Linked DNA regions of Homo sapiens. Each later gene encodes a partner of the first gene's protein in a complex. Each region holds a gene or a part of one and is shown on either strand. Other genes may lie near its edges.

Region 1 (7,568 bases):
CAGTAATCATTAATAAACCACAAGGTACAGAGAGGAAATACAGCGTAGTAGAAAGAGTAGTCAGTTCTGAGGAACACTATTACTTCAAAATATTCATGAGAGGATAGCAGGAGAAAGGCATCATGATAACTTCCTCTCTCAGATATTGACATTGCACATATTTAGCACATAAATGCCTCTGAGAAGTTTTGGAGTAAGGACACCACTATATCTCAACATTTCCCAATTTTGCTTGACCCTGAAATCAATTATCTCCAATGATGTCTTGAATATGTTCTACTAATTATGTGATCTGGGGCAAGAAATCTAACCTCTTTGAGTCATCATTTCCCTATAAATAAAAAAGATCAAACTAGTTTATCAGTCTCATAAGATGACGGGCAGGAGCAATGATTTAGTATTTACCATATGCACTACTGGCTGTATGTTATTATCATTACTACACTAAGAGTAACAGTGACTTCAGGAATAGACGTTTCATTCTTCACGTGGGGAGTCAAAAACAAGAGAACAACCTAAACTGAAGGGAAGAAAAAGTTTAATATATTTCTTGTGAAGATTTTCCATTCTTAAAAGCACAACTAAATTTTATTAATCCTCACAGTAGTAAAACATTACACAAAGGCACTGCCATCTGCAGGTCATAAACATGGACTGCTTGCAATGATTATTTAAAATGAAGTTTCAAACCAATAAATCTTTTCTCATCAGACTACGAAAGTCTTTCCAAAAATTGTTTATTCTGGTTGGACGCGGTGGCTCATGCCTGTAATCCCAGCACTTTCGGAGGCAGAGGCGGGCAGATCACCTGAGGTTGGGAGTTCGAGACTAGCCTGACCAACATGGAGAAACCCCGTCTCCACTAAAAATATACAAAATTAGCCGGGCGTGGTGGCGCACGCCTGTAATCCCAGCTACTTAGGAGACTGAGGCAGGAGAATTGCTTGAACCCGGGGGCCAAGATCGCACCACTGCACTCCAGCCTGGGCAACAAGAGTGAAGCTCTGTCTCAGAAAAAACAAAAACAAAACCAAAACAAACAAGTTGTTTTTTCTTAGCTCTCAAGCACTGGTAGATGAGTTTCCATTTGCTGAAGTTCTGAAACGGACGCCGGGCTTAAATCAAATTCTCAGAAATGTGAAGAAAATGACCTTAGCCTTACGTAAATTCTACATTGTGATCATACCAAGGTAACCCCAAAGAAACATGTTTTTAACAGGGGGAGAGATACATACACACACACACATATATATACATATACATATATATATATTTTTTTACACAGCCTTTGAGGGGAGGGGAAGAAAACTTGAATAAGCCTGAACTGACTTATGGGACTTTCCTGTCAATGATTTAAATTAAATCTGCTCTTACATTCACATAAACAGATCTTATGAACACACTATTAACTTACAAGTAAGTTAATCTGTCAATGCCTCCTTTAAACTTGTGGTGTTCACAGGTATGCAACATTGAGCAAACTGAATCTAGAAAAACTCCTTCCAATGAGCCTTGCAATATGGATTCGCTGGGACATTCTACAAGGAAAATCAGTGTTTCTAAGTTTTAGGTTAAGAGAAGTGTCAGAGGTTTCAAAGGCAATCTGAAGAGTGACAGATGAGCTCAAAGAAAGGCAAAGAAATCACAATAAAGGAAGAAATGGATGTTAACAAATAGCCAAGTGATTTCTAATATCCACAATGCAAAGCATGGGCTTTACTGGTTGCAAAAAGTAGACACAAAGTTAGTTTTCACACCCAGACTGACTCATAGAGAAAACATTAAATTAAGAGTTGTCAAAACTCACAAAAGCTTCCCCAGCATTTGTAGAAACATCTTTTTATGAGCCAACAGGGGGCTACGACATCACAACGCTGTAAGAAAATTCAGGCACACCGGGTGCACCTGAGTGAACACAGTTCTTGCAGTTCCCTGGGACTAACACTTTTAAGTCAACAAAGAGAACAGTTTACAAGAAAGCTGTTACATTATCCCTGAAGAGCCCAGGGCATTCATAGAATCTGCTTTGCCTCAGGAAAAATTCTGTGCACAGAGTGCAAGCCAGAAGAACCACAATTAATCAGCTACTCCTCGGGCAGCGTTTCCCAAAGTGTGGAACGCAGAATAATTTCAGGAGGAACAAGGACGCACTGTTTATTTCAACAGACAGATATTTATTTTTTTTATAAGCATTAGAAAAATAACTGGCTTTCCAGTACCCGGTTTGTGATTGAAGTTGCCGCCTTAAATATATTTAAGGAGAAAAAAAGAGTCAGTTTGAATTTTTTAAAAAATGTAACATTTGGTAAATAGCAGTACAGATGGTCCACGGACATAAAGGTGCAACGCGAGACTGAAACGTGTGCAACGCCGTCCTAAGAGAAGCCCCTCGCCCGCTGGCGGGGAGCGGACAGTGCCCCGCGCCGGGAGCTTGGAAAGCCGGCCGGATCGGACGCTGGCGCTGAGCTACGTGGTAAACCCGGGAACAGTTCCTCTCCCCGTTCTCTGGGCCCGAGGTCCGCGCCTACAAAACGCGTGGGGTGTCACACCACAAGGAGACACCCCGAGAATGCGGTCAGGGGCCGCGAGACGGTGGCGGGGGACAGCGCTCAGTACACCGCTCGGCGCTGCACGCCTGGAGAACGCCCGGTGCCACGGGACGCCTTGGGCCCGGTTCGAATCCCGACTGCGCCACTGACTCGCTGAGGACCCGCGGGCGAGCGACTCCACCGTTTCGACAGGGGGTGCGGGATGTGCGGCTCAACCAGAGAAGCCTTGAGGACTCCTAGTGACCGACCGTTCGTGCACAGACAGGCGGCTGCGATGCGACGCCGCCGACCTGCGTCCACCACAGAGAACCGTAGGCCGCCTCGGCCGGCCGGGCCTGGGCCTGACGGGAGCCGGAGGCGGCCGCGCCCCGCACCGGGCATGCGCAGCACCGCGCGCACCCGGAGAGGAGCCGAGACCGTGGCCGCGCGTCGAGTGGGCCTTCCCGCCTCAGCCTCCCCGTCCGGCCAGGCCCCCCACAACGGCCTGCCCGTCAGCCCCACGCCTCGGCTGACGGCCAGCGCTTCCCGGCACTCACCGCTACCAGCGCGGCGGGCTCCCGGCCGCTCCTTCGCCTCAGGCCCGCCGCTGCCGCCTCCGCGTCGGCCCACCTGCCCGCCGTAGGACAAAGGCGCCACCAACCGACCGGCGCGGGCACGAGGCAATGGCGGCCGGGCGGAGAGTGGAGATGGGGGCAGAGGGCGCGCACGTAGCGGCAGGCGCGGCACTGTCGCAAGACCGCGCGTGTTTACGGCAGGGCTGAGTTGGGGCGTCGATCTCCTTGGCAATGAGGGCCCGGGAAGTGGCTCTCGGGCGGGAGTTGAGAACGCAGGGAGTTGCCTAGCAACAGCGTCCTAGGCTGAGGATGGGCCCCACGGTGGTCGCCTCAGCCCCCGCCCCAGAGTACTTTTTTTCTGTTTTCAGAGCACATTCCCTCCTCCCTAACTGTGGGAACAGAACATTCAAATCCCCAAATACCTTGATTTAGTCTTGCATAAAACTGAAAGCAAAAACCCCAAATCCCTATACACGTGTGTATTGGAGAATATATATAGTCCTGTAACCTCCGGACCACAAGGAACAAAGAGAGCAGAAAGGTGGAGAAAATGTTGTATTTAAATTTACATTTAAATAGGCTCTGTACTCTATTAGTTTCACTGACAAGCGGCAAAAGGTTTCTGGAGATATAGTCACAGGTTCTTCTTGAGTTATTTATTCTTGGAATATTCGTTCAACGTCAAAAATTTCCCGGAATGTAACTGTTGACCGTGAAGCCTGTAAAATGTTGTACTGTTCATTTCATGTATAGAATACATTTGTCACAGGGAATGGGATTTGCTCACACAATAGTAAATGCACTCTATTAATCACAGCCATAGCTATATTAATCAGGTACTCTTTTATTAGTGTTGGAAACGCCTCAGACTCCATGGGGTCTAGTTCTTCTCCTTGCGAATATTGCCTACTAAGAAAAAATGGTGCCTGCGGAATTTAAACACTACAAGAAGCCAGATTTCTTTGACATCTACCCCTATGCTCACTCCACTCATTTATTCACTGAATGTTTATTACATACCTACTATGTAGCCCTATACTTATTATATGCCTGCTTGTTAGGCGCTGTTATGAGCAAATGCAGACCCTTTTCTGCTATCTTTGAGATTACAGTCTGGTGAAAGCATTAGACGAATAATCACACTTGAGTGTGTAATTGCAAACTGAGATAAACGCTGTGATGGAAAGAAATAGGGATTCTCAATGGTTGTAACTAGAACTTTAGTTTACTCACAGGCAAAGTGGGTTATTCCAATTCCCACTTTATAAGACTGTATGAAATTAGAAATGAAGACATAAAGTCTGTCAAATAATGGATACCCAACAAATGTTCATTCTTATTCCTTTCCCTCCAATATAGATCCTAATACTATGAAAATTTAAGAAGAATCATATTAATTAGATGATTAAGATAACCAAGCTTAGGGAAAAATGTTGGTTTAGAGGTGAGTGGCAGTACCTCAAGTGGGTAGTGGACTTTAGCCAAAAGATGTATTCAGTGACTTGTGTATTAAGTGTTTAATGAGTGTTTTTTATGCACTTGATTTTGTGGAGAGTAGAGAGTAAGGTAGACAAAATCCTTGTGCTTAGGGAGCTCATGGCCTATTAGGGAATATGAGCAATAAACAAACGATAATATATAGTGTTTGATGAGTATTTTTGATAGAGGAGCAAGTTAATTTTATGAAGAAAGATTCTTGTAGGGAGGCAGGTGCTCAGGACTTGGTGACTTCTTATTTAGATGTTTGCTTTACATAATAGGTAACATCTATTGTGTGCCTACCATGTGCTGAATCCTTTACACATATCATCTCATTTAATCCTCACAACCCTATTGAGAGGTGACAGCGTGCTGGCAGCCCTCACAGCCCTTGCTCACTCTCGGTGCCTCCTCGGCCTCGGCGCCCATTCTGGCCGCGCTTGAAGAGCCCTTCAGCCCGCCGCTGCACCATGGAAGTCCTTCTCTGGGCTGGCCGAGGCCGGAGCCGGCTCCCTCCGCTTTCGGGGAGGTGTGGAGGGAGAGGCACGGGCGGGAACCGGGGCTGCGCGCGGCGCTTGCGGGCCAGCTAGAGTTCCAGGTGGGCGTGGGCCTGGCGGGCCCCACACTCGGAGCGGCCGGCCCGCCCTGCTGGCCCCAGGCGTGAGAGACTTAGCACCCAGGCCAGCAGCTGTGGAGGGTGCGCCGGATCCCCCAGCAGTGCTGGCCCACCGGCGCTGCACTCGATTTCTCACCGGGCCTTAGCTGCCTCCCCGTGGGGCAGGGCTCGGGACCTGCAGCCAGCCATGCCCGAGTCTCTCCGCCCCACCAACCCTCCTCCCTCGGGCTCCTGCGCGGCCTGAGCCTTCCTGACGAGCGCAGCCCCCTGCTCCAAGGTGCCTGGTCCCATCGACCGCCCAAGGGCTGAGGAGTGCCGGTGCACGGTGCGGGACTGGCGGGCAGCTCCACCTGCGGCCCAGTGGAAGATCCACTGAGTGAGGCCAGCTGGGCTCCTGAGTCTAGTGGGGACTTGGAGAACCTTCGTGTCTAGCTAAGGGATTGTGGGTGCACCAATCAGCACTCTGTGTCTAGCTCAAGGTTTGTGAACACACCAATCAGCACCCTGTGTCTAGCTCAGGGTTTGTGGATGCACCAATCCACACTCTGTATCTAGTGGGGACTTGGAGAATCTTTATGTCTAGCTAAGGGATTGTGAATGCACCAATTGGCACTCTGTATCTAGCTCAAGGTTTGTAAATGCACCAATCAGCACTCTGTCTAGCTCAGGGTTTGTAAATACACCAATGGACACTCTGTATCCAGCTAATCTAGTGGGGACGTGGAGAACTTTTGTGTCCAGCTCAGGGATTGTAAACGCCCCAATCAGCACCCTGTCAAAACGGACCAATCAGCTGTCTGTAAAACAGACCAATCGGCTCTCTGTAAAATGGACCAATCAGCAGGATGTGGGTGGGGCCAGATAAGCGAATAAAAGCAGGCTGCCTGAACCAGCAGTGGCATCCCGCTCGGGTTGCCTTCCACACTGTGGGAGTTGTGTTGTTCTGCTCTTTGCTATCAATCTTGCTACTGCTTTTTGGGTCCACACTGCTTTTATGAGCTGCAACACTCACTGGGAAGGTCTGCAGGTTCACTCCTGAAGTCATTGAAACCACGAACCCACTGGGAGAAACAAATAACTCCAGACGTGCCACCTTAAGAGCTGTAACACTCACCTGGAAGGCCTGTAGCTTCACTCCTGAGCCAGCGAGCCCACGAACCCCCCAGAAGGAAAAAACTCCGAACACATGCGAACATCAGAAGGAACAAACTCCGGACACGACGTCTTTAAGAACTGTAACACTCACCATGAGGGTCTGCGGCTTCATTCTTGAAGTCAGTGAGACCAAGAACCCACCAATTCTGGACACACTGTAATATGTGTACTATATTCCTATTTTACAAATGAGACAATTGAGGCCAGTTAATTTGCTTGTCCCACAGAGATTATGTGGCATGGCCAGACTCACTGAACCTGTGCGGCCTGATGCCCAAAATGCTATTGTAACCACGAGTGATACTGTCTTCTGGGATAAGAGGTTCCCTTCCAAATCAGGGGGTACCTGATTGGTGTAAAAGCCTGTAACCCTTCAGAGGTGAGCACCAAAGTTTGACCAGGAGATAAATTGAAAATCTGCTACAGTGGAGGCCATCTGATTTCTGTCAGATAGATCTTTAAGCTCACTGGCTGTTAAAATTTGGTGTACAGTGGGTTACCCCTTACTGTAAGGGAAGAAAGGTATAGTTTAAAGTGTGGCCAGTACTAAAGAACGATGTGTGTTTCCTAGAACATATGAGTAGGCCTTGTGGTTTACAGGACAGCCAAGACAGGGCAATGAGCAATTCCACTCAAACAGCAAACTGGAGGGGGCAGCATTTGGTGCTCAGCAAATACCTGTTGAATGAAGAAAAAAAAAGAAGAAAGAGTAAATTCAATACCATAGTCAATAGTGGAGGAATTTTTTTGAGATATCAATTTGGTTTTATTTTAATCTGGTATTTTTCTTAGTATTTCAGACTGCTTTATAGGATGAAGCCAGATACGTTTTGGGTAATGAAGTGGTGATTAAAAAGTGTCTAAGCAATGGGCTCAGGAATATCCCAGGAGAGAGAACCAGAGGGTCTATGATAAAGAAAACATGTAGTTTTTTTTTTTTTTTTTTTTAAGGACAAGATTACTGCAGAGAATCAGAAAGTAGGATCAGAAGGCAATCTTGAGTAAAACCCTTCCATTTTGACAAATGCAGGGCATAATATAGCCTCAAAATTTTGATTTTTAAAAATTAATTTTTTTAGAGACAGTCTCACTCTGTCAAGGCGATCAAGCCTTGACCTTCTGGGCTTAAGTGATCCTCCCACCTCTGCCTCCTGAGTAGCTGGGACTACAGGCATGTGCTACCATGCCGGGCTTTTTTGGGTAATTTTTGTAGAG
Region 2 (7,520 bases), on another chromosome or scaffold:
AGTTTTGTTTTGTTTTGGTTTTGTCTTTGTTTTTGAGACAAGGTCTCACTCTGTCACCCAGGCTGGAGTGCAGTGGCATGATCTCGGCTCACTGCAACCTCCTGCCTCCCAGGTTCTAGTGATTCTCCTGCCTCAGCCTCACGAGTAGCTGAGACTATGGGTGCGCACCACTGTGACTGGCTAATTTGTTGTATTTTTTAGTAGGGATGGGGTTTCACCACGTTGGCCAGGCTGGTCTCAAACTCCTGATCTCGAGTGATCCACCTGCCTCGGTCTCCCAAAGTGCTGGGATTACAGGCATAAGTCACCATGCCTGGCCTACGTATCAGTTTTGAATGTGCCCTTCAATTTATGCTCTAAAAAACAGAATTTTTGTATGTAAAGTGAGCACAAGGCTGGGGGTGCTGGCTGATTACAGGCAAATCTTTTTTTTTGAGATGGAGTTTCACTCTTGTTGCCTAGGCTGGAGTGCAATGGCGCCATATCAGCTCACTGCAATCTCTGCCTCCCAGGTTCAAGCAATTATCATGTCTCAGCCTCCTGAGTAGCTGGGATTACAGGCATACACCACCACACTAATTTTTGTATTTTTAGTAGAGACAGGGTTTCACCGTGTTGGCCAGGCTGGTCTCGAACTCCTGACCTCAAGTGATCTGCCTGTTTCGGCCTCCCAAAGTGCTGGGATTACAGGCATGAGCTACCATGCCCGGCCACAGTAATAGACAATTAATACAATATCTGAGGGGTAATTCATCACTTTCTTTCCCAAAACCACTCATTTCCTATTTGTGTTAATAGAAAAAGCCCATCATAGTTACCTTTGACTTCTCCCCTTGACTCAGTTAACTTTACTCATCAAGGCACATTGGCTTTTTTTCCCAATGCCTTTTTTCCACTGTCTTTTGCTGCCATCTTGAAGTAAGCTCTCATTATCGCATTACTTTTTTTTTTTTTTTTTGAGACGGAGTCTCGCACTGTCACCCAGGCTGGAGTGCAGTGGCGCAATCTCGGCTCACTGCAACCTCCACCTTCCAGGTTCAAGCGATTCTTCTGCCTCAGCATCCCGAGTAGCTGGGATTATAGGCGCCCGCCACCACGCCCAGCTAACTTTTTGTATTTTTAGTAGAGACGGCGTTTCACCATGTTGGCCAGGCTCGTCTTGAAATCCTGACCTTGTGATTTGCCCGCCTCGGCCTCCCAAAGTGCTGGGATTACAGGCGTGAGCCACTGTGCCCGGCCAGCTCTCATTACTTCTTATCAGTGCATCTGTAACAGGCTTCTTACTGCTCCTCGTCCCCAGTTAGCTTCTCCTCCAGATCCATAGAGTTGTCAGATTCATGTTCTTAAAACCCAGCTCTCTGCTTCCCACCAAACTCTAAGTCACATTCTTCGAGCATTCAAGGGATGCCACTATGTTGCCTCAACCCATCATTCCACACGAATCTCCTGCTGTTTTCTTACAGAAAACCTGCTATGTCCATTAAGAAACATGCAAACTGCATTGTGAGGTGGTTGGCTTGTTATACCTTCACACTTTTTTTGCTCATAGCACCCCTTTAATCACTTACATACAAACCTAATCCTGCTTATCAGAACTACCTTGAACCCTTCTTCAAAATGATAGAGGTGCATAGGAGAGTAAGAAGTAAAGTCAATGCCTGTAATCTCAGCACTTTGGGAGGCCGAGGTGGGTGGATCACATGAGGTCAAGAGTTTGAGGCCAGCCTGGCCAAGATGGTGAAACACCATCTTCACTAAAAATACAAAAGTTAGCCAGGCGTGGTGGTGCATGCCTGTAGTCCCAGCTACTCGAGAGGCTAAGACATGAGAATCACTGAATCTGGGAGGCGGAGGCTGCATTAAGCTGAGATCGTGCCACTGCACTCCAGCCCAGGTGACAGAGTGAGACTCTGTCTCAAAAAAAAAAAAAAAAGAAAAAGAAAAAGAAAAAAAAAAGGAAATTCAGATTTTTAGCTCCTTGAAAGCAAGTACCATTTCTTACTCACCTTGCACTGAAACTCAATCAATATTTGTCATAAGGAAGTGAGGAAATGTGTTCAAAATGTAATATTTCACCAAGTCAAGGACATTAAAGATGGGGGGTGCTGCAGTAGGCATGGTAGTATGCTGAGAAAAGGGACTTCAAGGAGTTCTGGGACATACACCCTGCCTTCAGGGAGCTAATGTACCAGGAAGAGGCAGGACAGACCAGGTAAAATGATAAGGAACTAACACCAAAGTGGTACCACTTCCAACCAACATTGTAAATCAAAAATTTGGACCAAGGAGAGGAGAGAGAATGGTAGCTGGAGAAGGATATAGGATCAAGGAAGGTTTGGTGTTTGGGTTTTATTTTAATACTATATGTAATTAATAATGAGTATGGAATTTTATATTTCATTTTTTTTTTACATGGAGTTTCGCTGTGTCACCCAGGCTGGAGTGCAGTGGTACAATCTTGGCTCACTGCAACCTCCGCCTCTTGACTTCAAGTGCTTCTCCTGCCTCAGCCTCCCTAGTAGCTGGGATTACAGGTGCCTACCACCATGCCCAGCTAATTTTTTGTACTTTTAGTAGAGATGGGGTTTCACCATGTTGACCAGCCTGGTCTTGAACTTCCGACCTCAAATGATCCACCCGCCTTGGCCTCCCAAAGTGCTGGGATTACAAGCGAGAGCCACCAGCCAGAATTTTGTATTTTAATTACTTAGATTCCTGATCAACATAAACAATTCCTTATTCTTAACAGAAAATATGCAGGATAAAACATATAGTGATAACTATTGCCAAAACTAGCAGTTTCTAAAGTGGTTTTTTGTTTTGAAATGAAATCTCACTCTGTCACCCAGGCTGGAGAGTGCAGTGGTGTGATCTCGGCTCATTGCAACCTCCACCTCCAGGGTTTGAGGCGATTCCCCTGCCTCAGCCTCACAATTAGCTGGGATTATAAGCATGCACAATTAGGCCAGGCTAATTTTTGTATTTTTAGTAGAGATGGGGTTTCACCATGTTGGCCAGGCTGGTCTTGAACTCCTGACCTCAAGTGATCTGCCCGCCTTAGCCTCCCAAAGTGCTGGGATTACAGGTGTGAGTCACCGTGCCTGGCCTGAAGTTGTTTTTTTTTTTTTCTTTTTTAATTGTGTTAAAATACATGTAACATAAAACTTACCATCTTAGCCATTTCTAAGTATAAAGTTCAGTAGTGTTAAGGATATTCACATTATTGTGCAACCAATCTCTAGAACTCATTTCATCTTGCAAAACTAAAACTCTCTGTTAAACAAATTCCCCACTCCTCCCTTCCCCCAGCCCCTGGCAACCACCAGCCTACATTCTGTCTCTATGGATGTGATGACTCTGGGTACCCAGCAGTGGTGAAACCAACTATCAGACCCCACCAACAAATGACAAATGCCAGGATACACCTAGCCAATCAATCAGGTGCATGGCAACTTTGCTTAGAAAATACAGATCTCACATCTCAACATATCACCAATCAACTTCTGTAGAATTTCCACATATCCCCAGAAGGATGATAATTAAAGTTAGAGAACTGACTTCTGGAGAGTCATTAAAAGGCTAGGTGCTTTTTGTTTGGATATATTTCAGATATATCAGATTCACATGATTCACAGATTAACTCTTTGTCAGTGGCATCTTGAATAGTTAGGTACTTGGTAGCCAATGCAAAGAGTTTTTCTTCCTAAGCAGAGCCATAATAAGGGGAAGAAATGATGAACTTACACCATTGTAATAGTTCTCTGAGACAGGAGAACAGGTAGCAAAAAAAGACCTCCTTTCTACCAGAGGTCTGTAAAAATAAGTCAACAAACCCATTCTGGTTGAGAAGCCCTCCTCTAAAACAGAGATATAAACTGGTCAAAGGAAAGACTCCCCAAAAGATTTAATTTCTTTAACATTGTAGGGCAGAGTTTTCCCAACACATCGATTGAATGTTCAAACATGGCCTCAGTACAATGTTCTGGTACAACAGGAAAAAATTGTCTCTAAAGAGTTTAATTGTTGGGCCTGGCATGGAATTTCACCTGGCCAACCAAAGAACCAGTACCCAGACATCCTGATTCTAAGAATTATTCATTTATTTGCATGTCAATTTTCTTTAGTCACCATAACCTAAAATAGTTGGTCCATATCCTGGGTGGTGAACAGGCTTTGTTTTCTGTCCAGAGACCTCTCTCTCTCTCCCAGCACACACCCCTGTATTTGGCCCTCTCAGGTCACATCTGAATTCAGCCAGAAAGCTTTTTGTACACATGGGATCGTGCATGGTGTTCTAATGTACTGGCTGGGAAACATACTATGGCTTTTGAATTAAAAGAAAAAAGTAGTATTTAAAATTCCCAATTTTGACAATGATTCATGGACAAGAAAAAGTTTGGCCCTAGAAATGGCAGAAAAACACTCCAAAAAGACTACACTTTTTTTTTTTTTTTTTTGAGATGGAGTCTTGCTCTGTTGCCCAGGCTGGAGTGCAGTGGTGCAATCTTGGCTCACTGCAAGCTCCACCTCCCGGGTTCAGCCATTCTCCTGCCTCAGCCTCTCAAGTAGCTGGGACTACAGGTGCCCGCCACCATGCCCAGCTAATTTTTTCTATTTTTTAGTAGAGACGGGGTTTCACCATGTTAGCCAGGATGGTCTTGATCTCTTGACCTCGTGACCCGCCCGCCTTGGGCTCCCAAAGTGCTGGGATTACAGGCATGAGCCACCGTGCCAGCCAAGACTAGACTGGTTTTTATCAAAGCACCTGTAAATCTAGTTAATAAGAAATCAGTCACCCGGGCGCGGGTGGCTCATGCCTGTAATCCCAGCACTTTGAGAGGCCAAGGTGGGCAGATCACCTGAAATCAGGAGTTCGGGACCAGCCTGGCCAACATGGAGAAACCCAGTCTCTACTAAAAATACAAAATTAGCCGGGTGTGGCAGCGCTTGCCTGTAAACCCAGCTACTCAGAAGGCTGAGGCAGGAGAATCGCTTGAACCCAGGAGGTGGAGGTTGCGGTGAGCCGAGATCACGCCACTGCACTCCAACCTAGGTGACAAGAGCAAAACTCTGTCTCAAAAAAAAAAAAAAAAAAAAGGTCAGCCACCATCAAGCCTGTTCTTATGTATATTCTATCAATGGATAGAGCAGAACATTCATTCTAGCCCCAGCTCTGCCTGAAAGCCAGGCAATCTTAGACAAATCCACAAACTCCCTGAGCTGCCACATCTTCTTCAGTAGAATCAGGTACCTATTTGGTGCTGTACCTTTTCACGGTGCTCTGAGGGTGAAATGAGATGATGTCTGTGAAAGGATTCTGAGGCCGGGCGCAGTGGCTCACGCCTGTAACCCCAGCACTTTGGGAGGCCAAGGTGGGCAGATCACCTGAGGTCGGGAGTTTGAGACCAGCCTAACCAACATGGAGAAACCCCGTCTCTACTAAAAATACAAAATTAGCCGGGCATGGTGGCACATGCCTGTAATCCCAGCTACTCGGGAGGATGAGGCAGGACAATCGCTTGAACCTGGGAGGTGGAGGTTGCAGTGAGCTGAGATTGTGCCATTACACTCCAGCCTGGGCAACAAGAGCAAAACTTCATTTCAAAAAAAATAAAGAAAAAGAAAAAGAAAAAAAAAAAGAAAGCATTCTGTAAGGTATTATTACACATCCAAGAAGATGAAGCCAGTCTATTGGTATATCACTGGATACACATTTAGTGTTGGTTGGAATTTCCAGACAAGTTACAATGTCTTTATGGCCACCCTGAAGATTTTTGCCTCCTAATTTTACTTTTTGACTTCTGTCCACAGAAATCCATCACCCCTAGTCCAGATAGCTGGGCTGCTGGTAGCCTGCCAACACTGTGTGTGTGGACAAAATGCCACATATTCCTGATGCCATATTCTCAAGCTTGCAGACTAGGAGGATAAGTCTAGGAGGATAAGAATAGAGGATAAGTCCTCATCCCTATTCTTCTTCCACCTGCCCATCACACTTTCCCAAGCATTCAGTTCAAATGCTCCACATTTGTGTGTCCTGCAGAAGTAAAAAATTCACGCTCACAAAGCAGCAACTAGAAGGAATTTCATGGAAAAGATTTAAAAAGATTTCTTAAGCAACAAGCATCCTTGATGTGCATAAGTAGCTGTTTGACAATTATTAGCTTTTTTGGGGGGTGGGGGTTATACTCTAGCTCTGTAACTCAGGCTAGAGTGTAGTGGCAAGATCATGGCCTACTGCAGCCTTGATCTCCTGGGCTCAAGGGATCCTCCAAACTCAGCCCCCCAAGTAGCTGGGACTAAAGGCATGCACCATCATGCCCAGCTGATTTTTAAATTTTTGTAGAGATAGGGTCTCACTGTGTTGCCCAGATTGATCTTGAACTCCTTGCCTCAAGCAATCCTCCCACCTCGGCCTCCCAAAGTGCTGTGATCACAGGCATGAACCACCACACCTGGCCAATTATTATCTTTAAATGTATTCTTATTTATTTATTTATTTATTTATTTAGAGATAGAGTTTTGCTTTGTTGCCCAGGCTGGAATGCAGTGGCATGATCGCGGCTCACTGTAAACTCGGCCTCCCAGGTTCAAGCAATTCTCATGCCTCAGCCTCCTGAGTAGCTGGGACTACAGGCTTGAGCCACCATGGCCAGCTAATTTTTTGTATTCTTAACAGAGACAAGGTTTCATTATTTGGCCAGGCTGGTCTTGAACTCCTGCCCTCAAGTGATCCAGCCACCTAGGCCTCCCAAAGTGCTGAGATTACAGGCGTGAGCCACCACACCCAGCCTTTTTAAATATATTCTTTCAAAACAAAATATTAAGGCCCTCAATTAATTTAATATTAGGAAGATAAAACACTCCAAAATCACCAGAGAACTCATCATTAATAACTGATTTGCATGTAATTCTTAAGAACATGTACATAAGGAAACCCTGTTTCCTTCTAAAATGAGGAAAAGCTAATTCTCCTAGTAACCAATTGGCGCTTATTTAGTTGGATAGGAAAGAGTTTCAAGGGTTTGAATAGGGTAGGAGGACCAAGCCTCGAAGGCAGGGGTGGGAGAGAGTTCATCAGTCTTCTCAAGTGTCTTCTCTCTCAACAGCAAGTTTCTGCTCTTCCCTAACACCAACAACAGCCACAGACCATGCTCTGTAGGAACTGGACCAAATTCAAATATTCATTTGGGACAGGGTCAGAGAGAATTCCGAGTGAAGGGATTCAAGATGACACAGCCAATCCAGAAGTTAGGCTGAATGCACTCAACTCCCCTTCCAGGCCTGGGTTTGACAGTAGAACACACAACAATTTACTAACAAAATGCTGCAGTCTGGCTTTGAGGAAACATATACAAGTCCAGCAATCTATCTTTCTAGGTCACCCTAACTCTCCTGCCCTCTCTCAAGTACACCCACACAAAGATTCTCCACTAAAAGCCCTTCATTTTCAAGACCTGTCATAATTCCAGCTAGGAAGGCCAACTATCCAGTTTGCTAGCTCCTCATAAACTTGCCAC

Evidence for each region.
Region 2: the proteins of NCOA5 (region 1) and ESR2 are in contact, whole or in part, in a crystal structure (PDB 4ZI1), measured with the Homo sapiens proteins. Residues at the interface, in NP_066018.1 of Homo sapiens: Ser344, Leu345, Ile346, Leu348, Leu349, Ala350, Asp351; in NP_001428.1 of Homo sapiens: Ile310, Lys314, Phe319, Leu324, Gln327, Val328, Leu331, Glu332, Leu490, Glu493, Met494.

Annotation. Positions count from the first base shown.
Region 1 is NC_000020.11:46,086,732-46,094,299, forward strand, and holds the start of NCOA5 (nuclear receptor coactivator 5), read right to left. Parts: upstream 3,232-7,568; 5' UTR 3,086-3,231; intron 1-3,085. UniProt on the Homo sapiens protein: Nuclear receptor coregulator that can have both coactivator and corepressor functions.
Region 2 is NC_000014.9:64,283,910-64,291,429, forward strand, and holds part of ESR2 (estrogen receptor beta), read right to left. Parts: intron 1-7,520.